4 linked regions of the Homo sapiens genome follow. The protein of the gene in region 1 interacts with the protein of each later gene in a biochemical or structural test. Each region holds a gene or a part of one and is shown in the gene's direction. Other genes may lie near its edges.

Region 1 (3,500 bases):
TTTTGGAAAATATTGATGGTTTTACCTTTGTTGGTACTTGGGCAATATACCAGATTATTTCTAGCACAAAAGAGATAATGTCTGAGTTTTGTTTCATGTGGCAAAAAATAACAGCCATTAAGCATCCTGCCAGTTCCTCCTAAAATACTTGAACCCAGCTAAAAGAGACCAAAGACATTGAGTCCATAGAAATTTCTACCTGCTTTTATCTATTTTTCTCACTAGTTAAGAGATTTCTCAGTTAATCTCTTTTGCTTGATCGCCTCTTTCAGCTATCCCATGTTTCCCCAAAAAATAGTATTAAATTTAGAATGTTGGAGCTGATGAGGACTTCAGATGCCATCATTTTATACATAAGGAAACGTGGGCCCAAATGGAGAAGCAGCAGCCTTCCATCTGGCATTGTCTTTCAGTCTGATCTTCGAGAAACAGTTCAAGCATAAGCAGGAGGAAAGCAATCTTTAAGTCGTTGCCGTGATGATGCCATTATATTCTTACTGATATTTACATTTTACAGAATGTCTTCTTTAATGTTACCATATATTATGGGCATTTATTGAAAATAATTGTGTAGATTCCAGACCTCTTCTGCCTAGTCAGATCATCTATATAAATGTTTCACCAATTTCTAGAACTCTGAGTCCTCTGGAGGAATCCTGAGTGATGGCAGTGCAAAAAGCAGATTTGCTTCCTATTTCCTGTAATGGTGGATGAGATTATTTGGATAAATCCTCCTGATGAAAAAAAATGAAAAGTGCCGCAGAAAATATGTTTTTCAAATGACCTTGAAAGCACTGAATAGCTGAAAAGGTATCAGGGGCCAGGCATGGTGGCTCACACCTGTAATCCTAGCACTCTGGGACGCCGAGGTGGGCAGATCACTTGAGGTCAGGAGTTCGAAGCTAGCCTGACCAACATGGTAAAACCCTGTCTCTACTTGAAATAAAAAAAAAAAAAAAAATTAGCCAGGTGTGATGGCAGGCACCTATAATCCCAGCTACTTGGGAGGCTGAGGCAGGAGAATTGCTTGAGCCCGAGAAGTGGAAGTTGCAGTGAGCCGTGATCGCGCCACTGCACTCTAGCCTGGACGACAGAGTGAGACTCTGTGTCCGGGAAATAAAAAAAGGTACTGGGGAGCTCAGTGACCAATTTTTTTTTTTTTTTTTTTTTTTTTTGAGACGGAGTCTCGCCCTGTGGCCCAGGCTGCAGTGCAATGGCATGATCTCAGGTCACTGCAACCTCTACCTCCTGGGTTCAAACAATTCTCCTGCCTCAGCCTCCTGAGTAGCTGGGATTACAGGCACCCGCCACCACATATTTTTAGTAGAGACAGGGTTTCACCATGTTGGCCAGGCTGGTCGTGAACTCCTGACCTCGTGATCCACCCACTTTGGCCTCCCAAAGTGCTGGGATTACAGGTGTGAGCCACCACACCAGGCCTCAGTGACCAATTTTTATGTGAAAGCCTTTAATAAGAATGATAAGTGGAATATCAGAGTTACCAAGTGGCCCATTTTGCAAACAGGGCATTTGTCATTACTGAACACTTCTGTGCCAGAGAACCAAGGTTAAGATCTAAGGCCAGTACAAGTTGGGGAATCTGTTAGAAGACCCTCCTCATTGTTAGGAGTGCAAGAGGCAGTCCCCCCAGGCTAAAAGGAAACAGATAAGCATACCCTTATTTCCCTTCAACACCGGAGGACTATAGAGAAAGCTGCCTTGTCACTGAGCAAAGCAAAAGATGAGGAAATTGGGAACAAACTTCCAAATTGTGGCCACCAGTCCACCTTGAATGGATTTGCACCCAGGTACACACAGCCTGGGGCAGCCAGGGGAGCTGAAGCCATGTACTTGATTTGAAGTTTCCCCTTTCTTTACTAATAGTTTCAGATGTATGGTATAAACAGAAAGTCTCTGAAGGCAAACACTTTTATCCTAACCCCCACTAACTTCATCCTATCCGCCCGACATAAACTTTTTCCAGGGCAGTAGCCAGCAAGTCAAAATTATCAGGCACACAAGGAAACAAGTAAGACCCAACAGAAATGACAGATAGTAGAAACAAACCCAAACCTACTGCATATATTGGAATTAAGAGACAAAGATTTTAAAAATAAGCTTACGAAGTTGGTTCGTTTGTTTTTGAGACAAGGTATTGTGCTCTCGCCCAGGCTGGAGTGCAATGGCATGATCATGGCTCACTGCAGCCTCGACCTCCTGGACCCAAGCAATCCACCCACCTCAGCCTTCCCAGTAGCTGGGACAACAGGCGTGCACCACCACACCCAGCTAATTTTTTTCTTTTTCTTTTTTTTTTTTTTGTAGAGATGAGGTCTCACTATGTTGCCCAGGCTGATCTCCAACTCCTAGGCTCAAGTGATCCTTCCACCTTAGCCTCCCAAAGTGCTGGGATTACAAGTGTGAGCTACCACGCCTAGCCCAGGTTTTTAAAAATCAATAATAAGCTTGTAAAATATCTTCAGAGAGCAGAAAAAAAATGTTAATGACATAGCAGATTTTAAAAAGAACCAGAGGAACATCCAGGGGGAAACATGCAGTAACAAAATTAGAATCTCAGTGGTCACACCTATTAGAATGGCTAACATTTTTTTGAAGTTTCATCAGTGGGTAAATAGATCAATAAATTGTGATATAGCCATACAATGGAATGCCACTCAGCAATAAAAAGGATCAAACTATTGATATATGCAGCAGTATGGATGAAACACAAGATCATTATGCTGAGTGAAAGAAGCCAGGCAAAAAAGAGAACACGCTATATGATTCCATTTACATAAACTTCTGGAAAATGCAAGATGGGGGTGGAGGGAGGGAGGAATTACAGAGGGGCATGAGGAAATTCTGGAGGTAATGAATATGTTTTTCTTTTTTTGGAGACGGAGTCTCGCCCTGTCACCCAGGCTGGAGTGCAGTGGCGCAATCTCAGCTCACTGCAACCTCTGCCTCCCCGGTTCAAGTGATCCTCCTGCCTCAGCCTCCCGAGTAGCTGGGATTACAGGCGCCTGCCACCACGCCTGGCTAATTTTTTGTGTTTTTAGTAGAGACAGGGTTTCACCAGGTTGGCCAGGCTGGTCTCAAGCTCCTGACCTCAAGTGATCTGCCTGCCTCAGCCTCCCAAAGTGCTAGGATTACAGGTGTGAGCCACCGCAGCACCCAGCCATTTTTATTTTTTATTTTTTATTTTTATTCTTCTAAAGTCAAGGTCCCTCTCTGTCTCCCAGGCTGGAGTGCCGTGGTGCAATCTTGGCTCCTTGCAGCCTGGAACTCCTGGATTCAAGCAATCCCCCTATCTCAGCCTCCCAAGTAGCTGGGATTACAGGCGCCCGCCACCACGCCCAACTAATTTTTAAATTTTCGATAGAGATGAGATCTCACTATGTTGGCCAGGCTGGTCTCGAACTCCTGACCTCAGGTGATCTGCCCGCCTCAACCTCCTAAAGTGTTGGGATTACCTGTGTGAGCTACCACACCTGGCTAAG
Region 2 (3,500 bases), on another chromosome or scaffold:
ATGACCCAGAGTACTAGCCTCCCTTTCCCTAGGGAACCTGTCCCTTAGAAAAGGTTCAGCTGTCTACCAGGTAGGGAGAGACACAGTAGAGGTGAGTGTGGATAGGTCAACTTACAGTGTAACCACAGGGGAGAGAGGGAAACCTGGGTTGGAATGCTGGCATTTGCTCCCCTGCCCTTCCTTGAGTGTGGTATCATCACTGAAGAGTTCCGCGTGGGCAGGGCAGAACTGCTGCCCTGCTTCTGGGTCATTCTCTGAGTCCCAGTGTTTACTATTGATGTTTCTGACTCAAGCCCTTCTAGCTTTGCCCTTTCAGGGGCAGGCATACCTCAAAACCGTAGACTGGTGTGAAGGTGTGGGTTGCCCCTCCACACCTGTGGGTGTTTCTCGTAAGGTGGAACGAGACTTGGAAAAGAAAAAGACACAGAGACAAACTATAGAGAAAGAAATAAGGAGACCCGGGGAACCAGCGTTCAGCACATGGAGGATCCCGCCAGCCTCTGAGTTCCCTTAGTATTTATTGATCATTCGTGGGTGTTTCTCTGAGAGGGGGATGTGTCAGGGTCACAAGACAATTGTGGGGAGAGGGTCAGTAGACAAACACGTGAACAAAGGTCTTTGCATCATAGACAAGGTAAAGAATCAAGTGCTGTGCTTTTAGATATGCATACACATAAACATCTCAATGCTTTACAAAGCAATATTGCTGCCCGCATGTCCCACCTCCAGCCTTAAGGCGGTTTTTCCCTATCTCAGTAGATGGAACGTACAATGTCTTGGTTTTATACCGAGACATTCCATTGCCCAGGGACGGGCAGGAGACAGATGCCTTTCTCTTGTCTCAACTGCAAGAGGCATGCCTTCCTCTTATACTAATCCTCCTCAGCACAGACCCTTTACAGGTGTTGGGCTGGGGGACAGTCAGGTCTTTCCCTTCCCACGAGGCCATATTTCAGACTATCACATGGGGAGAAACCTTGGACAATACCTGGCTTTCCTAGGCAGAGGTCCCTGCGGCCTTCCGCAGTGTTTTTGTCCCTGGGTACTTGAGATTAGGGAGTGGTGATGACTCTTAAGGAGCATGCTGCCTTCAAGCATTTGTTTAACAAAGCACATCTTGCACAACCCTTAATCCATTTAACCCTGAGTTTGACACAGCACATGTTTCAGAGAGCAAGGGGTTGGGGGTAAGGCCATAGATTAACAGCATCCCAAGGCAGAAGAATTTTTCTTAGTACAGAACAAAATGGAGTCTCCTATGTCTACTTCTTTCTACACAGACACAGTAACAATCTGATCTCTCTTGCTTTTCCCCACACTGGTGAGTCACTCCTCCTTTCCTCTCCCTCTACTCCCAGGAGTGAATTGTTCCCTCCAAACTAGAAACTGGTGACTGGCACTTCCTAGTTCTACCTGGAACTAGGAAACGAGTGGCAGTGGAATTTCAGTGTCCTTTAGTCTTTGCCTTCTGGCTCCAGATCACTTTTTTTTTTTTTGAGACGGAGTCTCATTCTGTTACCCAGGCTGGAATGCAGTAGCATGATCTTGGCTCACTGCAACCTCCACCTCCCGGCTTCAAGCGATTCTCCTGCCTTAGCCTCCCCAGCAGCTGGGACTACAGGCACGCGCCACCACGCCCGGCTAATTTTTTGTATTATTTATTTATTTATTTGTTTTTGAGACAGAGTCTCTCTCTGTCGCCAGGCTGGAGTACAGTGGCACGATCTCGGCTCACTGCAAACTCCACCTCCCGGGTTCATGCCATTCTCCTGCCTCAGCCTCCTGAGTAGCTGGGACTACAGGCGCCCGCCACCATGCCTGGCTAATTTTTTCTATTTTTAGTTGAGACGAGGTTTCACTGTGTTAGCCAGGATGGTCTTGATCTCCTGACCTCATGATCTGCCCGCCACGGCCTCCAAAAGTGCTGGGATTACAGGCGTGAGCCACCGCGCCCGGCCCCTAATTTTTTGTATTTTTAGTAGAGACGGGTTTTCACCATGTTGGCCAGGCTGGTCTCGAACTCCTGACTTCAAGTAATCCTCTTGCCTAGGCTTTCCAAAGTGCTGGGATTACAGGCGTGAACCCCTGCACCTGGCCACTCCAGACCACTTTTACCTCACCATGTTGCTCTTCAGTTCCTTTGTGATCATGTCTTGTGGAGTCTCCAGCCCAGTTCCGATTCAAGATAGAGCTACTGTGATTTTTTTTAAAAAAATTTAATTAGAATAGGTTAATTGACATGGTTTTATAATTAAAATGATATCAAAGGGGTGGGGTATCTCATTCCCATGTTGCTCCTGTTCACCCCAAACCCCAATAGTTTCTAATGTCTCTTCAGTGTTTCATTTTACAGATACAAGTATATATAAATAATACTTGTTTTTTCTCCCCTTTCTGACACAAAAAGAGGCATACTACATATATTCTACATCTTGCTTATATATATATATCATGGAGTTTTGTTGTTGTTGTTGTTGTTTTTGAAACAGGGTCTCACTCTGTTGCCCAGGCTGGAGTACAATGGCATGATCATAGCTCACTGCAGCCTTTTTTTTTTTTTTTGAGACAAAGTCTTGCTGTGTTGCCCAGGGAGGAGTCCAGTGGCGTGATCTTGTCTCACTGCAGACTCTGCCTCCCAGGTTCAAGTGATTCTCCTGCCTCAGCCTCCCGAGTAGCTGGGACACAAGCGTGCACCACCATTCTTGGCTAATTTTTGTGTGTGTGTATATATATATATATATATATTTTTTTTTTTGAGATGGAGTCTGGCTCTGTCACCCAGGCTGGAGTGCACTGGAGCAATCTCGGCTCACTGCAAGCTCCGCCTCGCGGGTTCACGCCATTCTCCTGCCTCAGCCTCCCGAGTAGCTGGGACTACAGGGGCCCGCCACCACTCCGGCTGATTTTTTGTATTTTTTTTAGTAGAGACGGGGTTTCACCGTGTTAGCCAGGATGGTCTCGATCTGCTGACCTCGTGATCTGCCTGCCTCGGCCTCCCAAAATGCTGGGATTACAGGCATGAGCCACTGTGCCCAGCCTTTTGTACATATTTTTTTAATTTAATTTTTTTTTTTTGAGATGGAGTCTTGCTCTGTTACCCAGGCTGGAGTGCAGTGGCGTGATCTCGGCTCACTGCAAGCTCTGCCTCCCGGGTTCACGCCATTCTCCTGCCTCAGCCTCCCAAGTAGCTGGGACTACAGGCACCCGCCACCATTCCCTGCTAATTTTTTTTTTTTTTTGTATTTTTAGTAGAGATGGGATTTCACCATGTTAGCCAGGATGGTCTTGATCTCCTGGCCTTGTGATCTGCCCCCATTGGCCTCCCAAAGTGCTGGGATTACAGGTGTGAGCTGCCCGGCTAATTTTTGTATTTTTAGTAGAGATAGGGTTTCACCATGTTGGCCAAGCTGGTCTTGAATTCCTGACTTCAAGTGATCCGCCTGCCTTGGCCTCCCAAAGTGCTGGGATTACAGGCATGAGCCACCGTGCCTGGCCTCACT
Region 3 (3,500 bases), on another chromosome or scaffold:
AGAAAATAACAAATAACTCCTCATGTAGACTAAAAGCCTATAGGACCTTTAGAAAAGAGAGATAATTATCTGCCTTCTTTTCGGAAGCTGCGTTCCTAATCTTTTTCTTCTTTCATTTGCATGCTGGGCTTGGCAGTACTAGACCTCTTTCATCCCACATTGTAATTCCTCTTGTAGATAAAAGTGATTAGTAGAATTGAGGACTTTGTTGACAATGCAGTGAGCTGATATAGGTACATGACCTTTTTGTACAGGTTACTGAGGTGTAATTTGTAACCAGGTTCTCTACTTGTGTGTGTGTGTGTATGTGTGTGTGTGTGTCTTCACTTGGGAAGACTGAAAAAAGTTGGAGAAATTTGAGTCTACCTAGGACTGTGTCTCTGCTAGAAGATGGATTGTCAAAATAATCTATTTATTAATAGCCCTTTTTCTTTTTTCCAAGAGTGGTAAATATAACATGGTATGGGGTTATAACAAAAATAAGCGGCTATAAAAGCCTCCATGTTAATTTTTTCTTTATTTTTCTGTTTGTTTATAGCACACTTCATAGCTGCCACGATATAGTTTTACGAAGAAGTTACTTGGGAAGTTGGGGCTTTAGTATCGTTGGTGGATATGAAGAGAACCACACCAATCAGCCTTTTTTCATTAAAACTATTGTCTTGGGAACTCCTGCTTATTATGATGGAAGATTAAAGTGAGTCTTGTTCTAATTAATGATGTGATTCATGTTGATGACATTGGACATGATCTAGACCAGGGGTCAGGGGTCAGCACTAAATCCAGCCCATTATCTTTTTGAAAATAAAGTTTCATTGCAGTGCAGCTACACTTACTGGTTTATGTACTCTCTGGCTCCCACACTACACCAGCGGAGTTGATGTCATCATGACAGAGACTGTATGGGTCTTGAAGCCTAAAATATTTACCATCTGACCCCTTACGGAAAAAATTTGCCAATCCCGATCTAGACTGAAATGTTACCTTTACTGTCTTGTCACTTATAGCTATGTTTCATTAATCTGATGACAGAAACTGAACCTGAGTTATTTCATTGGACATATTTCATTCATCACGTTGTGATGTGACATTGAGCGCTGAGTAAGTTTCCCACACAGCCTACTCAGGTCCAGTCCTGTCATTAGATGACTCTGCTTCATTTTTCTCCATAGCACTCATCTCTACCTGAGATCGTATTTATGCAAGCTCCATAAGGGAGGGATCTTGTTGCATTTATTGTTATATCCCTAGCAGTCATAACAATACCTTGCATAAAGTAAGATCTCCATAAATATTTGATGAATGAATGTACAATAGCTTACAGGATGCCTGGCGCGGTGCTAAGTGCTGTGCATGCATTATGTAATCTTTTTAACAATCCTATGAGGTAAGTTTCTTTATTATCCCTGTTTTAAAACAAACAAGATAACTGAGGCTTGGAAAGGTTAAGAAACTTGCCCACAATGAAATAGCTGAAAGTGGTTGGCTGGCATTCAAACCCAGGACTATCTGGCTCTAGATCCCTGGACTTTAACCCCTCTGCCAGCCTCTACCACTGAGCAAAAGTCCTCGCTCAGTGTACAGCGTCTTATCAAAGCCCGGGCACTGGGAGAAGAAAAGAGAAGGTGTCATGGCAAGACATCATCACCAGCAGAGAGGAGGTGGTTGATTGTAAATTCTTAATACCTGGTTTACGAAGGAAGAACCAGTTCTTAAAAAGTAAATGTTGACATTCTATATAGAATGCTATGCAGATGGAGAATGTACACTGTTTGCAAGGAGTAAGTGACATCTAAATAATGTATGGAAAGGTGATTGGGAGTGGTATGCTCCAGGTCAGCCTATATTGATAAAGATGAAAAAAAATCATTTTAGGAGGACAGAGTAGGGAAAAATGAATTAATCACTCTCTTAGCTAAGTTACTTAACCAGTCTGGGCCTCTGTTAATTATAATTTGTATTCCTCCTACTTCCAAAAAGAAATTGAGGTAGTTAACAATAAAATAGTATATTTATGGTATAAATAGAAGACCAAAAACCATAAGGATAATTATGGTAATTATAAGGCTGGAAAGGTCCTCCAATTCATCATCCATCCATAATAATTCTGCTTAGAGTACAGTGAGCGTCAACAGCTGAAAGAAGAGGAAGTATGGGTCTTATTTCCAATTTAATTCAGCCCTCAGATGTATGAGCTCTAAGAATGAATAGAAAAATAGCAGTCAAAATAATAACCCCCTTCAAATGCATGACTTGGTATTTTTTTAAAGAGAGAGCATATTTACTCTATATTTTGCTTAAATTAGTGTGAAAATTACTCTGCTTGTCCTTGACATTCACCTACTGGTTATGGAGTCATCGGCACAGGGGTTTCCTTGATTGGCAAGGGAAAGCCAGCATAGGCTTAAGGGCTGTCCCAGACAAAGTAGATTATACACCCTAACCATTGACAGTTCAGTGGTAAGTGAAACCGCATTTTTCATGCTACATAAATCTCAATTGGGATATTTTTAATACCATGAAAATAGTAACATTCTGTATCTGTCTCTCTTTGTCCAGGTGTGGTGACATGATTGTGGCCGTAAATGGGCTGTCAACCGTGGGCATGAGCCACTCTGCACTAGTTCCCATGTTGAAGGAGCAGAGGAACAAAGTCACTCTGACCGTTATTTGTTGGCCTGGCAGCCTTGTATAGATTTTGGAAATTGGTTTCAAATCTTGCATCTTCCTTTTTTAGATTTTTGAAAGAAAACCCTTTGGTTTCATTGTGTTTGTGGTTTAGGAGCTGCTGACACTGCTGGTATACACAGGGCCAAAACCCACTAAGATTGTCCGTTTATGTTTATTTAAATGGTTTCCTAAGTTAGTTACATTTCTTTTAGCTTGGAAACAGTCTTCCACTAACCTTTGTGAGTTTATATTTTCAGAATTCAGACTTAGTTGTTAAAATGTTACCTATGGTAATGAGCAAAGCTCACCCAAACTGTGCCCCAGATGGAGTAAAGACCTTCTGGTGGGTCTTTGTTTTCAGTAACTGAATCATAGAACGAGTTCTGTATCCCTCAGGCCTGATGTCAGCAAAGCCAGTAACAACAGCGTGTACTGCCACTGTCATAACCAATACCATGAATGAATATACTTTAAATTTTGGTGATAACTGTTCCCCATTTTTTTTTGAACCACAGTCTCACTCTCACCCAGGCTGGAGTGCAGTGGCACAATCTCAGCTCACTGCAAGCTCCGCCTCCTGGGTTCACGCCATTCTCCCACCTCAGCCTCCCGAGTAGCTGGGACTACAGGCGTGTGCCACCATGCCCAGCTAATTTTTTGTACTTTTAGTAGAGACGGGGTTTCACCGTGTTAGCCAGGATGGTCTCGATCTCCTGACCTTGTGATCTGCCCGCCTCAGCCTCCCAAAGTGCTGGGATTACAGGTGTGAGCTGCCGCACCCGGCCGTTCCCATTTTTTATTGGTGCCAACATTTCAAAACTTCATACTGT
Region 4 (3,009 bases), on another chromosome or scaffold:
GTCTGTGTCCATCCTTCACTCTCTGGAAGGTCTTCCTGATGTCTAACTGCATTCACTCATACTGTGCCTCTAGGCAGCCGGGACCACAGGCTTTTGTCCCCACGCTGTGGGATCTCCAGGGAGCTTTGGCCTAGACTGTCTCTCTCTGTGATTCCCTGTGTGTCTGTCTCTTGTGTCCTGTGGGTCTCTCTGTCTTCTCTCCTCCTCCCTCTCTGTCTTTCTTTCACCCTTTCCTTCCTTCCTGTCAACATCTTATCTGCCCCCCTCCTTCCCCTTCATCCCGGTCCCCTTTCTCTCTCACTGTCTCCTATTCTTTCTTCCTGTTTCTCTTCATCCCTGTCTCTGAGTCCCTGTTCCTCTGTCCTTGTCATTCTGCATCCATTCTTACCTCTTTGTCTGCCTTTCTCTGTTTCTCTGCCTCTGTGTGGTGTCTCACCTCCATCCTCACCTCATCCCATCACCTCCCCAGCCCTCACCCACCCACCACTCACCCACTCACTGACCATGCCCTGCCTCCCTGTCGTGGCTGGGCCTGCTTGCTCCCCGTGCCCAGCAGAATCTGAGCTCTACACATGTCTTGGAGAAACCAGGGTCTCGCAGCTCCTAATTCTGGAACCCAGGGGCTAGGCAGAACCCGAGGCAGGAGCCCAGTGAAAGGAGAAGCCCCATGGAGCTCTGCCTGGGAGTAACCAAGCCTGTTTTGTGTTTCTTGCTCTGCTCTGTATATATAGAGCTTCTCTTCCCTCCTCCGTAGCTGAAAGCCCCCAACCGGTCCGAAAGCTCCTTGAAGACCGTGCTGCCGTGCACAGACACGGGTTCCTCCTGCAGCTGGAGCCCACGGTGAATAGGCAGGCGGGCCACAGGGCCCTGTGTGTCCCTGCTGCTTGCAGTGGCCATCTGCTGCCCACGCTGTCAGCAGGTTCTTTGGACTGGCGTCTGGAGGGTACACAAGGCGCCATCCCTGAAGTGCTGCCTGGGGCCTGCTGTTGGCCACAGTGGAATTCCTCAGACTCAAAGCCCTCCCCTCAGGGAAGTGGTGCAAAGCCCAGTCTGTAGTACTTGCTTGGGACCCAGGTGTCCTGACTCATCACGGCCCTGGGACCTGCTTTGGGTCCCAAGCAGCACCCAAATGAGCAGGATGAAGCCCTGGGCAACATTCTCTGAGGGACACAGACAATGCCTCGAACCAGGCATGTGGGGCTGAAGGAGCCCACAGGAAGCCTGGCTGGAATTGCCCCCAAGAGATGTCCTCAACAGAATGTGAAAATTCCCCTTCCTGTGAATGCCAACCTCCTGGGAGCTCTTGCTCCACCATGGCCCCCACACTTGGCCAGAACCAGGGCTATTAAGAGGTTTTGAAGGCTGGTCCAAAGAACCAGGGTTGGTGGATTAGAGTTGCTCATGTCCTGTTGTGCCCTGTCATGGCCTGAGCCGTGCTTAGACCAAACGGTCTTCTCTGCCTTCTCCCTTCCTTGGCTCTGGGCTCTATCTGTGGGATATACCGTGGAACCCAGCTGTAGGATGTGTTTCTCACCCTGTGATAGGGATGTGCCCGTGGACAGAGCTGGCAGGTGGCTGTGAAACTGGTGTTTGGTGTGGCCTGAAGCCACAGATGGCAGCATCTGGGGCAGACCCAAGCCTGGACTTGACTTTTCTGTTACAACTTTCCCAAAACATTAGGGCCTCATGCTCCCAAGACACTTGGCCGGGTAGACCATGGCTTCTGGGGTGGCCTGCATGGCCCTATGTTTTCTGTTACTTGCCTTTTGCAAAGGACTCTTGCCCCTGTTCCTCCCAGTCTCCTCCTTCCCCCATCCCAGGTGTCCCTCCCGCTTTCTCCCTGGCCTCCTGTGTGCTGTGGCTGTGGCTGGTGTGTAGCCACTTGGGGCCTGCACCCAGAGGGGTCTCCAAAGGGTGGCAGGGCCTTGTGCTGCCAGAGTGGGTACTCCCCCTTGTGGGGCCTTGCTCTGGCTGGGCTGAGTGTGCACCCACAAAGCCTGTATCCACCTGGGCTGTTTCCACTTCCCTGCAGGACCTTCTTCTGAAGTCCAAAAGGGGAAACCAAATTCACCGTTAGGAAACAGTGAGCTCCGGCCCCACCTCGTGAACACAAAGCCTCGGATCAGCCTTGAGAGAGGCCACACTACACACACCAGATGGCATCCTTGGGACCTGAATCTATCACCCAGGAATCTCAAACTCCCTTTGGCCCTGAACCAGGGCCAGATAAGGAACAGCTCGGGCCACTCTTCTGAAGGCCAACGTGGAGGAAAGGGAGCAGCCAGCCATTTGGGAGAAGATCTCAAGGATCCAGACTCTCATTCCTTTCCTCTGGCCCAGTGAATTTGGTCTCTCCCAGCTCTGGGGGACTCCTTCCTTGAACCCTAATAAGACCCCACTGGAGTCTCTCTCTCTCCATCCCTCTCCTCTGCCCTCTGCTCTAATTGCTGCCAGGATTGTCACTCCAAACCTTACTCTGAGCTCATTAATAAAATAGATTTATTTTCCAGCTTATAGGAGTGAGTGTGGATTTGGGCAGCAGATTCAAGGCTGCAAATCAAAAAACCATAAGGTTTGTGGCCCCTATTCAAGGGTGATAGACAGATCCCAGTGCTGTGATCTGGGTCTGACATGAAGGGTGTGATCAAATGGCCAGGGCTGGCTTGGAGCAGAGGTTGAGAAAGCAGGAGATGGGCTGGGCTGGGCTTCAATGTCTTCTCAGCAGAGATGGTAGGAGATGAAGTCTGTGTGGCAGGGATTTTGCTCAATTCCAGAAAGCAGAGCTGAAGGCAGGAGCCCCGAAGGGTCACCTCATGATATGGGGTGCCCAGCTTCTTTCAAGAACGACACAGCCACCAATGCTTCTCCTGAGGTCACCACGACAGCATGTGAGGGAGGAAGATGGCAGGGTCCACTCCCTCCGTGGAAGCACATCCCACAGAAGCTCATGGGAAATGCAAGGGCTTGAGGCAGGAAGGCATAACTCCGGGGGCCCAGCAGGGGGAATGT

What was found. The genes of interacting proteins can lie anywhere in the genome.
Region 2: the proteins of CASK (region 1) and F11R form a complex in vitro, tested with the Homo sapiens proteins (2 studies listed by BioGRID and IntAct, with this or other methods).
Region 3: the proteins of CASK (region 1) and LNX2 interact in a test that uses a peptide from one of them, tested with the Homo sapiens proteins (one large-scale study listed by IntAct).
Region 4: the proteins of CASK (region 1) and USH1C interact in a test that uses a peptide from one of them, tested with the Homo sapiens proteins (one large-scale study listed by IntAct).

The regions. Positions count from the first base shown.
Region 1 is NC_000023.11:41,549,555-41,553,054, reverse strand, and holds part of CASK (peripheral plasma membrane protein CASK), read left to right. Parts: intron 1-3,500. UniProt on the Homo sapiens protein: Multidomain scaffolding Mg(2+)-independent protein kinase that catalyzes the phosphotransfer from ATP to proteins such as NRXN1, and plays a role in synaptic transmembrane protein anchoring and ion channel trafficking.
Region 2 is NC_000001.11:161,014,653-161,018,152, reverse strand, and holds part of F11R (junctional adhesion molecule A isoform 1 precursor), read left to right. Parts: intron 1-3,500. UniProt on the Homo sapiens protein: Seems to play a role in epithelial tight junction formation. Appears early in primordial forms of cell junctions and recruits PARD3.
Region 3 is NC_000013.11:27,547,530-27,551,029, reverse strand, and holds part of LNX2 (ligand of Numb protein X 2), read left to right. Parts: intron 1-538; coding exon 539-697; intron 698-2,559; coding exon 2,560-2,695; 3' UTR 2,696-3,500.
Region 4 is NC_000011.10:17,493,400-17,496,408, reverse strand, and holds the end of USH1C (harmonin), read left to right. Parts: intron 1-731; coding exon 732-840; coding exon of another isoform or gene 841-1,056; exon of another isoform or gene 1,057-1,996; intron 1,997-2,032; coding exon 2,033-2,077; 3' UTR 2,078-2,509; downstream 2,510-3,009. UniProt on the Homo sapiens protein: Anchoring/scaffolding protein that is a part of the functional network formed by USH1C, USH1G, CDH23 and MYO7A that mediates mechanotransduction in cochlear hair cells. Required for normal development and maintenance of cochlear hair cell bundles.